Linked DNA regions of Homo sapiens: region 2 is linked to region 1. The links come from fine-mapping of genetic effects on gene expression. A gene starts in region 1. The other region holds a variant in brackets. All regions are shown on one strand. Distances are from middle to middle.

Region 1 (5,373 bases):
GAGGATGATCCCCAACTTGTCCCACTACAAATGCCAAAAGTTCAAAGGCCTCAAGAAGGCAAGGCCGCACTCAGTGCTCAATGGCGCCCAGGCTGGAGTGCAGTGGCGTGATCTCGGCTCGCTACAACCTCCACCTCCCAGCCGCCTGCCTTGGCCTCCCAAAGTGCCGAGACTGCAGCCTCTGCCCGGCCGCCACCCCGTCTGGGAAGTGAGGAGCGTCTCCGCCCGGCAGCCACCCCGTCCGGGAGGGAGGTGGAGGGGGTCAGCCCCCCGCCAGGCCAGCCGCCCCGTCTGGGAGGGAGGTGGGGGTGTCAGCCCCCCGCCCGGCCAGCCACCCCATCCGGGAGGTGAGGGGTGCCTCTGCCCGGCCACCCCTACTGGGAAGTGAGGAGCCCCTCTGCCCGGCCACCACCCCGTCTGGGAGGTGTGCCCAACAGCTCATTGAGAACGGGCCAGGATGACAATGGCGGCTTTGTGGAATAGAAAGGGGGGAAAGGTGGGGAAAAGATTGAGAAATCGGATGGTTGCCGTGTCTGTGTAGAAAGAAGTAGACATGGGAGACTTTTCATTTTGTTCTGTACTAAGAAAAATTCTTCTGCCTTGGGATCCTGTTGATCTGTGACCTTACCCCCAACCCTGTGCTCTCTGAAACATGTGCTGTGTCCACTCAGAGTTAAATGGATTAAGGGCGGTGCAAGATGTGCTTTGTTAAACAGATGCTTGAAGGCAGTATGCTCATTAAGAGTCATCACCACTCCCTAATCTCAAGTACCCAGGGACACAAACACTGCCGAAGGCCGCAGGGTCCTCTGCCTAGGAAAACCAGAGACCTTTGTTCACTTGTTTATCTGCTGACCTTCCCTCCACTATTGTCCTATGACCCTGCCAAATCCCCCTCTGTGAGAAACACCCAAGAATGATCAATAAAAGAAAAACAAACCCAAAAAAAAAAAAAAAAAAAAAGAAGGCAAGGTCTTGACTATCCCTTACTCAGTCTGCAGCTCCTGAGGAAGGCCATTGGTAGTACTGCATTCTCCTGGTCCTGTTTGCATCTGGGCTTGGGCTTGGGCTTGGGTTTGCTCCCACACCTGGCTCTGAAGGCCCTGCAGTTCCTTTCTCAGCTCCTCCAGGCATTGCTCCAGGAGAAAAGCACTCCCCTTTGGGGCCCCCTGCAGCAACCTTAGTGATGCTGTAGTGGGACAAGTTAGGGATCATCCTCTCTAAGAGTTTCACAAGACCCTAGATACTCTACTTGCAAAACAAGACACATGTGCACACACAACAGGTGTGTGGCAAAATTGTGTGCATACATATGAAGCTGTGTATATGAAGAAAATAACTGGCCAGATACCTTCCAGGACACTGATCTGGTACTTCTGCTGCTCTCGCTCTTCTAGCAGGCCCTGCACTGCCTGCCTTAGTGCCTGTCACCTCCCCAGGCAGAAAAAAGCACATGAACTACTGTATAACAGCTTTTCCCGACCCCTAGTATCCTCATCTTACACAAACATCACATATACACACCAAGGATTCCAAGCCTCACCTGAGCCTGACATTGAAATTAGGATCAGAGAATAGCAACCTCACCCCAGAGAGAGGATGGGCTCTAGGACTCAGGGCAGCTCAGCCTTTGTGGAACTATGGGAGTCTCTAAAGCCCAAGGCTGTTGAGCTTGGACTCCTGACTGCAGAGGCAAGTGATGAGAGGAAATCCAGGTCCCAGCCAGGTCCCCGGCTGAGGAAATAAGGAAGGGTTAAGTGCAGGGTCTGTGTGGGGAAACAGAGTTCAGGAAAGGACAGAGTTGGAATTTGGAAGGAATAATGGATGATACGGGCACTGGAGGAAGGCACAGAAAGAGAAAGGGCTTGGAAGTAGAAAGAGACATTACTTACCTGCGGTGGAGACCCCAAGAAGATACAGCCACTGCTACAGAAGAAACAGATGCACAGGCCAATGAGCTCTGTGGAGACCCCAAGAGGATACAGCCACTGCTACAAAAGAAACAGATGCACAGGCCAATGAACTCTGAGAGTCCCTTAGCCTCCCCACGCAAACTGGGGACCTCCACCAACCCCTCACCTTATTCCGGACCACATTTCCATCAGTAGCGTTGAGAAGCACATCCAGCTGCTCAAACCAGCTGAGGCTCGTATTCATATCCTGTGGCAGGGGAGCGGCAGGGGTCTGGCTCCCTGGTGTCTTGTGCTTGCTCTCCTAGCGGGGGATACCCAAGGTATCCCCAGGAAAGGCCACCACGTTAGATGGAAAGAGGGAAGTGGGGATGCAACACTGGGGTAGGTGGATGCACTATCAGACCAAAACTGCGATCCTGTGACTAGGGAAAGGAAGGACGCTCTTGGGGAACTGGGGGAAAAGCGGGATACCGTGATGATACGCAGATATCAGGTGGGGATTGAAGGTGCCAGAACCTGGTTGAGACCTCCCCAGAAGTAGTACACTGGCGCCACCACGCCAAACCTGTGCCAGTGACAACTGCCGCCGCCGGGTTCAAAACTTCGGGTTGGTTTTGAAAGTCCGACTTTGGACTGGCTGCCGCAGCGCCACCTGGGAAACTGAGGTCGCCTCTTGCGAACACAACCGGCGATGGAGGCGGTGGAACTACCTTTCTCTAGAAGAGACACGTACATGCACACCCCCACCGTGTAGCTTGCCGGGAAACTGAGTCTTCCTGATTTCGTGTGGCTGTCTCCAAGGAGGAAACGAACTACGCATCCCAAGATGCATCGCGCATAGGCAATATGGTCCCGCTACTGGACCCATTTCCTACCTGGGAAATGGAGTCGAAGCTGACTCAAAACGTAACGGCCCAATTGTCCTTGAGACTTCATTCCCCAGCAAGCTCAGCGTGTAACGTGCGCTATGGAGCCGAAAGTCGCAGAGCTGAAGCAGAAGATCGAGGACACGCTATGTCCTTTTGGCTTCGAGGTTTACCCCTTCCAGGTTAGTTTATCCCTCCTGCTGTTCTAGGGCGAAATATATGATTGGCTTCGTTGCAACTGGCGTGAGGCCTCGGGAGCCTCTGATCCTCCTGGGTTCCTGCAGCCCAGTGTCCATGTGACAACAGGGACAGAGTTTCAGTGGGGGCTTGGGTTAAAAAGGTAGTGGTCGAGGCCGGGCATGGTGGCTCACGCCTGTAATCCCAGCACTTTGGGAGGCCGAGGCGGGCGGATCACCTGAGGTGAGGAGTTCGAGACCAGCCTGGCCAACATGGTGAAACCCCATCTCTACTAAAAATATAAAATTAGCCGGGCGTGGTGGTGCATGCCTGTAATCCCAGCTACTCGGGAGGCTGAGGCAGGACAATTGCTTGAACCCATGAGACGGAGGTTGCAGTGAGCCGAGATTGCGCCATTGCAGTCCAGCCTGAGCAACAAAGAGCGAAACTCCGTGTCAAAAAAAAAAAAAAAAAAAAAAGTTGTCGCATGTTTAACCTTTTGCCACCATATAATGCCGGATTCGTTAACGGGAGACACCATATGACCTGTAGCGTGTGTGGCTCAGATTGTCACCTATATAATTTACAAGAAGAAAGGGACCTGTGAGGCAAAGTCACCTTGGAACTTCCTAAAGGATTTAGGAGAGGGCAAAGCCTAGAAGGTTTGCATAGCTATCATTTAGGTCAGCTGAGGAAGGAAGGGCATTCCTGGTGATGAACAGGCAAACAATTGGCTGGTTTGTTCCCTCTACCAACAGAAGGATAATTCATGATATTTCCAGTCATCAGTGCTGGGCTGGGTAATGAAACTTTGTACACTTGCCTGGCACAGCAGTCTCAGCACCGCACCCCGACCCCCATTTACACGGTTACATTTCCCCACATCAGTGCCCTGTGCACTGAGCAGTTAAGTTACAAAGCTAAATCAGCTCAGCTTGAGCCCTTTGCCTGATGCTTAAGAGACTACCCACTTCCCATTCCTTCTGCTGAGTGGCTCACAGCAGTCCTGGGAGAGGATATAGAGGGAGAAGTAGGTTGGGTCTAGCTTGAGACTGGTCTTGCCAGAAAAAATGGAATTGAGCTATATATGAAAAGATAGATTGGAAGGAAGGAGGGTTATGTACATCCCAAATATCAGAAAAAGCTTGAGTAAAGGTGTGGAGATAGTGGTGTGGTGTTACCAAGTAAAAGGGCTTGATGCCTGATGTGCTGGAAGCTAATATTATGACACTGGGTTTTTGAGAAAACAAAAGCTATTTGTTGCAGATCGACCTTTAACTCTTTGAGACACCGTTTCAGTGGATGGCAGGTGTGTGGGAGAGTGAGAATGCCTATCTGGCAAGTTGAGTAGACCTGGGTATTAGGAGCTTTTGTACTGAACAAAGCCAACTGCAGCCCTGCCAGTCACCCTAGGCTCCTACCTCTCACCTCCCTACCCCCACATCCAATCAGCCACCAAGACCTATAAGACTGTCTACTGAATCTCCCAAATCCATTCCCTTGTATTCCACCCATCTATGCTGTGGTCCAGGCCACCATTTCTCACTTGGATTACTGTAATAACCTCCTTGCTGTAATTTTACCTCCAGTCCCTCCTCCACACTGCAGCCAGTGTGATCTAAAAATGATCATGCTAGTTTACTCCTTAAATCTTCAGTGGCTCTTCACTGTCACCAAATTAAATCCATATTCCTTAAATTGGTATTCAAAGCCAATCAAAATCTCACTCCTATTGATCTCTCCAGCCTTCTCTCCCTCTGATTCCCTCTACAGACCCTTCACTTCCACCAAACTAGACAATTCTCAAATATACCCAGGAATTTTCTGCCAGTGTGTTTGCTTATGCTGTGACTTGTTTATTTTATTCTTTATTTATTTAGAGACAAAGTCTCACTCTGTCCTCCCGGCCGGAGTGCAGTGGTGCAATCATAGCTCACTGCAGCCTCAAACTCCTGGGCTCAAGTGATCCTCCCACTTTAGTCTCCCAAGTAGCTGACTCCAGGCATGCACCAACACTCAGGGTCTCACTTTGTTGCCCTGGCTGGTCTTGAACTCCTGGCCTCAAGTGATCCTCCTGCTTCGGCCAGCCACCCAAAGCACTGGGATTACAGGCATGAGTCACCGCACTCAGTCTGTGACCTCTTTTTAAAATACACACCAGTGAGTTTATGTGTTTTTTGGTGAAATATAAATAATAAATAAATGCACACCAGATTCTCCTCCCTACATCAACCTGACAGTTGACCAGTTGACTTTCTAGCCTTCAAGACTTAGCATCCAAGGAAGCCTTTTCTTTTCTTTTTTTTTTTTTTTGAGATGGAGTTTCGCTCTTGTTGCCCAGGCTGGAGTGCAATGGTGCGATCTCAGCTCACCACAACCTCTGCCTCCCGGGTTCAAGTGATTCTCCTGCCTCAGCC
Region 2 (5,373 bases), 32 kb after region 1:
GGTGTGTGCCTGTGGTCCTAACTAGTCCAGAGGCTGAGGTGGGAGGATTGCTTGAGTCCCAGAGCTCGAGGCTGCAGTGAGCCGAGATGGCACCACTGTACTCCAGCCTGGGTGACAGAGTGAGCAGAGTGAGACCCTGTCTCAAAAAATAATAAAATAAAATAATGGGAACCCAAATCACAAGACAGCACTCATTTTTCTTTTATTTATTTTATTTTTTTTGAGACAGAGTCTTGCTCTGCTGCCCAGACTGGAGTGCAGCAGCATGGTTTCGGCTCACTGCAACCTCCACCTCCTGGGTTCAAGTGATTCTTGTGCCTCAGCCTCCCAAGTAGCTGGAATTACAGGTATGTGCCACCATGCCTGACTGATTTTTGTATTTTTAATAGAGACAGGGTTACGCCATGTTGTCCAGTCTGGTTTCGAACTCCTGGTCTCAAGGGATTCACCCATCTCGGCCTCTCAAAGTACTGGGATTACAGGCTGAGTCACCACTACCGGGCTTATTTTTCATACAGATGATTTAGAATATGTTTATGTTAAATTTTTTTAGATTATCACTAAAAGAAAACAGTTGAATTCTTCAATTTACAAGGATTCAATTTTTAAAATTATATTTGAATGTACAGAGGCCTACAAATACCAATTTCAGAAACACTGTTATCAAGGATATCTATTTGTTAAAATTGAATGCAACTGAAAGTAACAGATTAACTGCAAATAACAAGCTTAACCAAATAGGGGATTAATTTTTCCCATTTAACAAGGAGACAGGGCCGGGCACAGTGGCTCACGCCTGTAATCCCAGCACTTTGGGAGGTCGAGGCGGGTGGATCACTTGAGGTTGGGAGCTCAAGACCAGCCTGACCAACATGGAGAAACCCCGTGTCTACGAAAAATACAAAATTAGCCGGACGTGATGGTACATGCCTGTAATCTCAACTACTCGGGAGGCTGAGGCAGGAGAATGGCTTGAACCTGGGAGGTGGAGGTTGCAGTGAGCCAAGATCGCGCCATTTGCATTCCAGCCTGGGCAACAAGACGAGCTCCGTCTCAAAAAAAAAAAAAAAAAAAAAAAAGCAAGTAGACAGGGCCAGGTGGAGTGGCTCATGGTTGTAATCCCAGCATTTTGGGAGGCCGAGATGAGAGGATCATTTGAGCTCAGGAGTTGGAGACCAGCCTGGGCGACATAGGGGTACCCATCTCTACAAAAAATTAAACAAACAAACAAAAAATAGCCAAACATGATGACGCATGCCTGTAGTCCCAGCTACCCAGGAGGCTGAGATGAGAGAATTGATTGAATCTAGGGGGTTTAGGCCACAGTGAGCCATGAATGCACCACTGCACTCCAGCCTGAGCAACAGAGCAAGACCCTGCCTCAACAAAAAAAAAGCAAAACAAAATGATAAAAAGCAAGTAAGGCAGGGCACAGTGGCTCACGCCTGTAATCCTAGCACTTTGGGAGGCCGAGGCAGGCAGATTACTTGAGGTCAGGAGTTCTAAACCAGCGTGGCCAACATGGTGAAACTTCGTCTCTACTAAAAATACAAAAAAAATAGCCAGGCGTGGTGGTGGACACCTGTAATCCCAGCTACTCTGGAGGCTGAGGCAGGATAATCGCTTAAACCCGGGAGGCGATCATGCCACTGCACTCCAGACTGGGCTACAGAGCAAGGCTCTGTCTCAAAAAAAAAAAAAAAAAAAAGAAGTAGACAGCTGTTACAGTATGTTAAGCTCCATAGAGACAGCACCAGGGCAAGTGAGAGCCTGACAGGCACAGGGTGACTCTGTGCCTCACTGAGGAAAAATAACTAGACATGAGCAAAGGAGATCCTCAGAAACCTAGAGGCAAAATGTCATCATATGCATTTTTCGTGCAAAACTTGTCGGGAGGAACATAAGCACCCAGAGGCTTCAGTCAGCTTCTCAGAGTTTTTTTTTTTTTTTTTTTAGATGGAGTCTTGCTCCCATCGCGCAGGCTGAAGTGCAGTGGCGCGATCTTGGCTCACTGCAACCTCTGCCTCCCGGGTTCAAGTGATTCTCCTGCCTCAGCCTCCTGAGTAGCTGGGATTACAGGTGTGCGCCACCATGCCTGGCTAATTTTTGTATTTTTAGTAGAGACAGGGTTTTTGCCATGTTGGCCAGGCTGGTCTCGAACTCCTGACCTCAGGTGATCCACCCGACTCAGCCTCCCAAAGTGCTAGGATTATAGGCGTGAGCCACCACGCCCAGCCAGCATTTTCTAAGAGTGCTCAGAGAGGTAGAAAACTGTATCTGCTAAAGAGAAAGGAAAATTTGAAGACATGGCAAAGGTGGACAAGGCCCGTTATAAAAAAGAAATGAAAACCTATGTCCCCCGTAAAGGGGAGATAAAAAGAAGTTCAAAGATCCCAGTGCATCCAAAAGGCCTCCTGTAGCCTTTTTGTCTTTCTGTTCTGAGTATTGCCCAAAAATCAAAGAACACCCAGGCCTATTCATTGGTGATGTTGCAAAGAAATTGGGAGAGATGTGGAATAACACTGCTGCAGTCGGGCATGGTGTCTCACGCCTGTAATCCCAGTACTTTGGGAGGCCGAGGTGGGCAGATCACGAGGTCAGGAGTTCGAGACCATCCTGGCCAACATGGTGAAGCCCTGTCTGTACTAAAAATACAAAAATTGGCCACTCGTGGTGGTGCACGCCTGTAATCCCAACTACTCGGGAGGCTGAGGCAGGAGAATCGCTTGAACCCGAGAGGCGGAGGTTGCAGTGAGCAGAGATCGCACCATTGCACTCCAGCCTGGGCAATAGAGTGAGACTCTGTCTCAAAAAACAATGACCAAAAAAACACTGCTGTGGATGGCAAGTAGCCTTATGAAAAGAAGGCTGAGAAGCTAAAGGAAAAATAGGAAATGGAAATTGTTGCATATCAAGCTAAAGGAAAGCCTGATATAGCAAAAAAGGGAGTCGTCAAGGCTGAAAAAACGAAAGAGAAAGAAGGAAGAGGAGAAAGATGAGGAAGATGAGGAGGAGGAAGATGAAGATGATTAATAAGTTGGTTCTATCACATTTTTTTTTCTGTCTAAAAAGCATTTAACCCTTCTGTATACAAATTACTCCCTTTAAAGAAAAAATTGATGCCGGGCGCGGTGGCTCATGCCTGTCTGTAATCCCAACACTTTGGGAGGCCAAAGTGGGCAGATCACCTGAGGTCAGGAGTTCAAGACCAGCCTGGCCAAAATGGCGAAACCCCATCTCTACAAAAATACAAAAATTAGCTGGGCATGGTGGTGTGTGCCTGCAATCCCAGGTACTCGGGAGGCTGAGTCATGAGAATCACTTGAATCCGGGAGGCAGAGATTGCAGTGAGCTGAGATCGCGCCATTGCACTCCAGC[G/C]TAGGCGACAGAGCGAGACTTCATCTCAAAAAAAAAAAAAAAAAGAAAAAAATTGAAAAGTAAGGCTGTGTAGGATTTGTTTTTAAACTATACAGTGTCTTTTTTGTATAGTTAACACACTACTAAATGTGTCTTTACACATTATCTTTTAGTTTTTCTAGAGACGGAGTCTTGCTCTGTTGCCCAGGCTGGAGTGCAGTGGCACCATCATAGCTCACTGCAGCCTGGAATTCTTGGGCTCAAGCAATCCTCTTACCTCAGGCTCCTGAGTAGCTGGGACTATAGATGGGTGCCACCACGCCTGGCTAATTTGAAAAAAAAATTTTTTTTTTTTGAGATGGAGTTTTGCTCTTGTTGCCCGGGCTGGAGTCCAGTGTCACCATCTCTGCTCACTGCAACCTCCGCCTCCAGAGTTCAAGCAATCCTCCTGTCTCAACCTTCTGAGAAATTGGGATTACAGGAGCTCGCCACCACACCAGGCTAATTTTTTGTATCTTTAGTAGAGATGGGGTTTCACCATATTGGCCAGGCTGGTCTCGAACTCCTGACCTCAGGTGGTCCGCCTGCCTTGGTCTCCCAAAGTGCTGGGCACCACGCCCGACCTAAAACATTTTTTTTTGTTGGCCAGGAGCGGTGGCTCACACCTGTAATCCCAGCACTTTGGGAGGCTGAGGTGGGTGGATCGTGAGGTCAGGAGATGGAGACCATCCTGGCTAACACAGTGAAACCCCGTCTCTACTAAAAATACAAAAAATTAGCTTGGCGTGATGGCAGGCGCCTGTAGTCCCAGCTACTCGGGAGGCTGAGGCAGGAGAATGGCGTGAACCCGGGAGGCGGATCTTGCAGTGAGCTGAGATTGCGCCACTGCACTCCAGCCTGGGTGACAGAGTGAGACTCTGTCTCAAAAAAAAAAAAAAAATTTTTTTTTGTTGTTTAGACAGAGACTCTTTATGTTGCCCAGACTTGTCTTCAATTCCTGGGCTCAAGCAGTCCTCCTCCTTTGGCCTCCCAAAGTGCTGTGACTATAGTTTTTTGATTAGAAAAAAAAAAAATACAAGTTAAAAACTGGTATGATCACTCCACACTGTATCAGGAACTCAGCTCACTGCAACCTCCAACTCCCTGGTTCAAGCGATTCTCCGGCCTCAGCCTCCCAAGTAGCTGGGACTACAGGCACGCACTGCCATGAGCAGCTAATTTTTGTATATTTAGTATAGATGGGGTTTCACCATGTTGGTCAGGATGGTCTCGATCTCCTGACCTCATGATCTGCCCGCCTCGGCCTCCCAAAGTTCTGGGATTACAGCCGTGAGTCTGGCCTACTTTTATTCTTATGATAACCCTATGGTCACAAAATGTCTGCTCTACTTCCAGCCTGGACAACATAGTAAGACCCAGTCTCCAAAAAAAAAATTTTTTAATTCATTTAAAAAATAAAAAATAAATGTATTTAAGTTGCTCTTTACCTGTCTTTTTTTTTAAGAGATGAGGTCTCACTATATTGCCCAGGCTGGTCTTGAAATCCTGGGCTCAAGAGATTCTCCCACCTTGGCCTCCCAAAGTGCTGGGATTACAGGTGTGAACTGCTACTCCCAGCCTACCTAATCTTTATTTGAACTTTTCTTTTCTTTTCTTTTTGAGATGGCATCTTGCTCTGTTGACCAGGCCAGAGTGCAGTGGCGCAATCTCAGCTCACTGCAACTTCTGCCTGCCAGGTTCAAGCAATTCTCCTGCCTCGGCCTCCCGAGTAGCTGGGATCACAGGCATGCACCACCACGCCTGGCTAATTTTTGTATTTTTAGTTGAGACAGGGTTTCGCCATGTTGGCCAGGCTGGTCTCTAATTCCTGACCTCAGGTGGGGACCTCTTGGCCTCCCAAAGTGCTAGGATTACATGCATGAGCCACCACGCCTGGCCTTTTTTTTGAGACGGAGTCTTGCTCTGTCACCCAGGCTGGAGTGCAGTGGCTCAATCTTGGTTCACTGTAAACCTCTG

Alleles and levels. Positions count from the first base shown, and alleles are read on the strand shown. Sizes are in standard deviations (SD) of each study's normalised expression.
With allele C in place of G in region 2, the expression in liver of the gene that starts at base 2,848 in region 1 is lower (small effect, 0.23 SD a copy in GTEx).

Evidence for each region. PIP is the estimated chance that this variant, and not a neighbour inherited with it, causes the effect.
Region 2: its variant is the best candidate, but not a certain one, in a credible set for the expression of MMACHC in liver (GTEx, PIP 0.67).

What each region holds. Positions count from the first base shown.
Region 1 is chr1:45,497,453-45,502,825 of GRCh38, forward strand. MMACHC (metabolism of cobalamin associated C) reads left to right here and starts at 2,848. Exons shown (of 4, transcript NM_015506.3): 1 at 2,848-2,961. The coding sequence starts at 2,881. CCDC163 (CCDC163 homolog) reads right to left here and starts at 2,621. Exons shown (of 5, transcript NM_001102601.3): 1 at 2,080-2,621; 2 at 1,893-1,991. The coding sequence starts at 2,157. RefSeq lists enhancers at 2,561-3,093, 2,643-2,842.
Region 2 is chr1:45,529,107-45,534,479 of GRCh38, forward strand. It overlaps the pseudogene HMGB1P48. Among named protein-coding and RNA genes, the nearest start is that of PRDX1, 9.9 kb to the left of the region's middle. The variant G/C (reference allele first, on the strand shown) is at 3,379.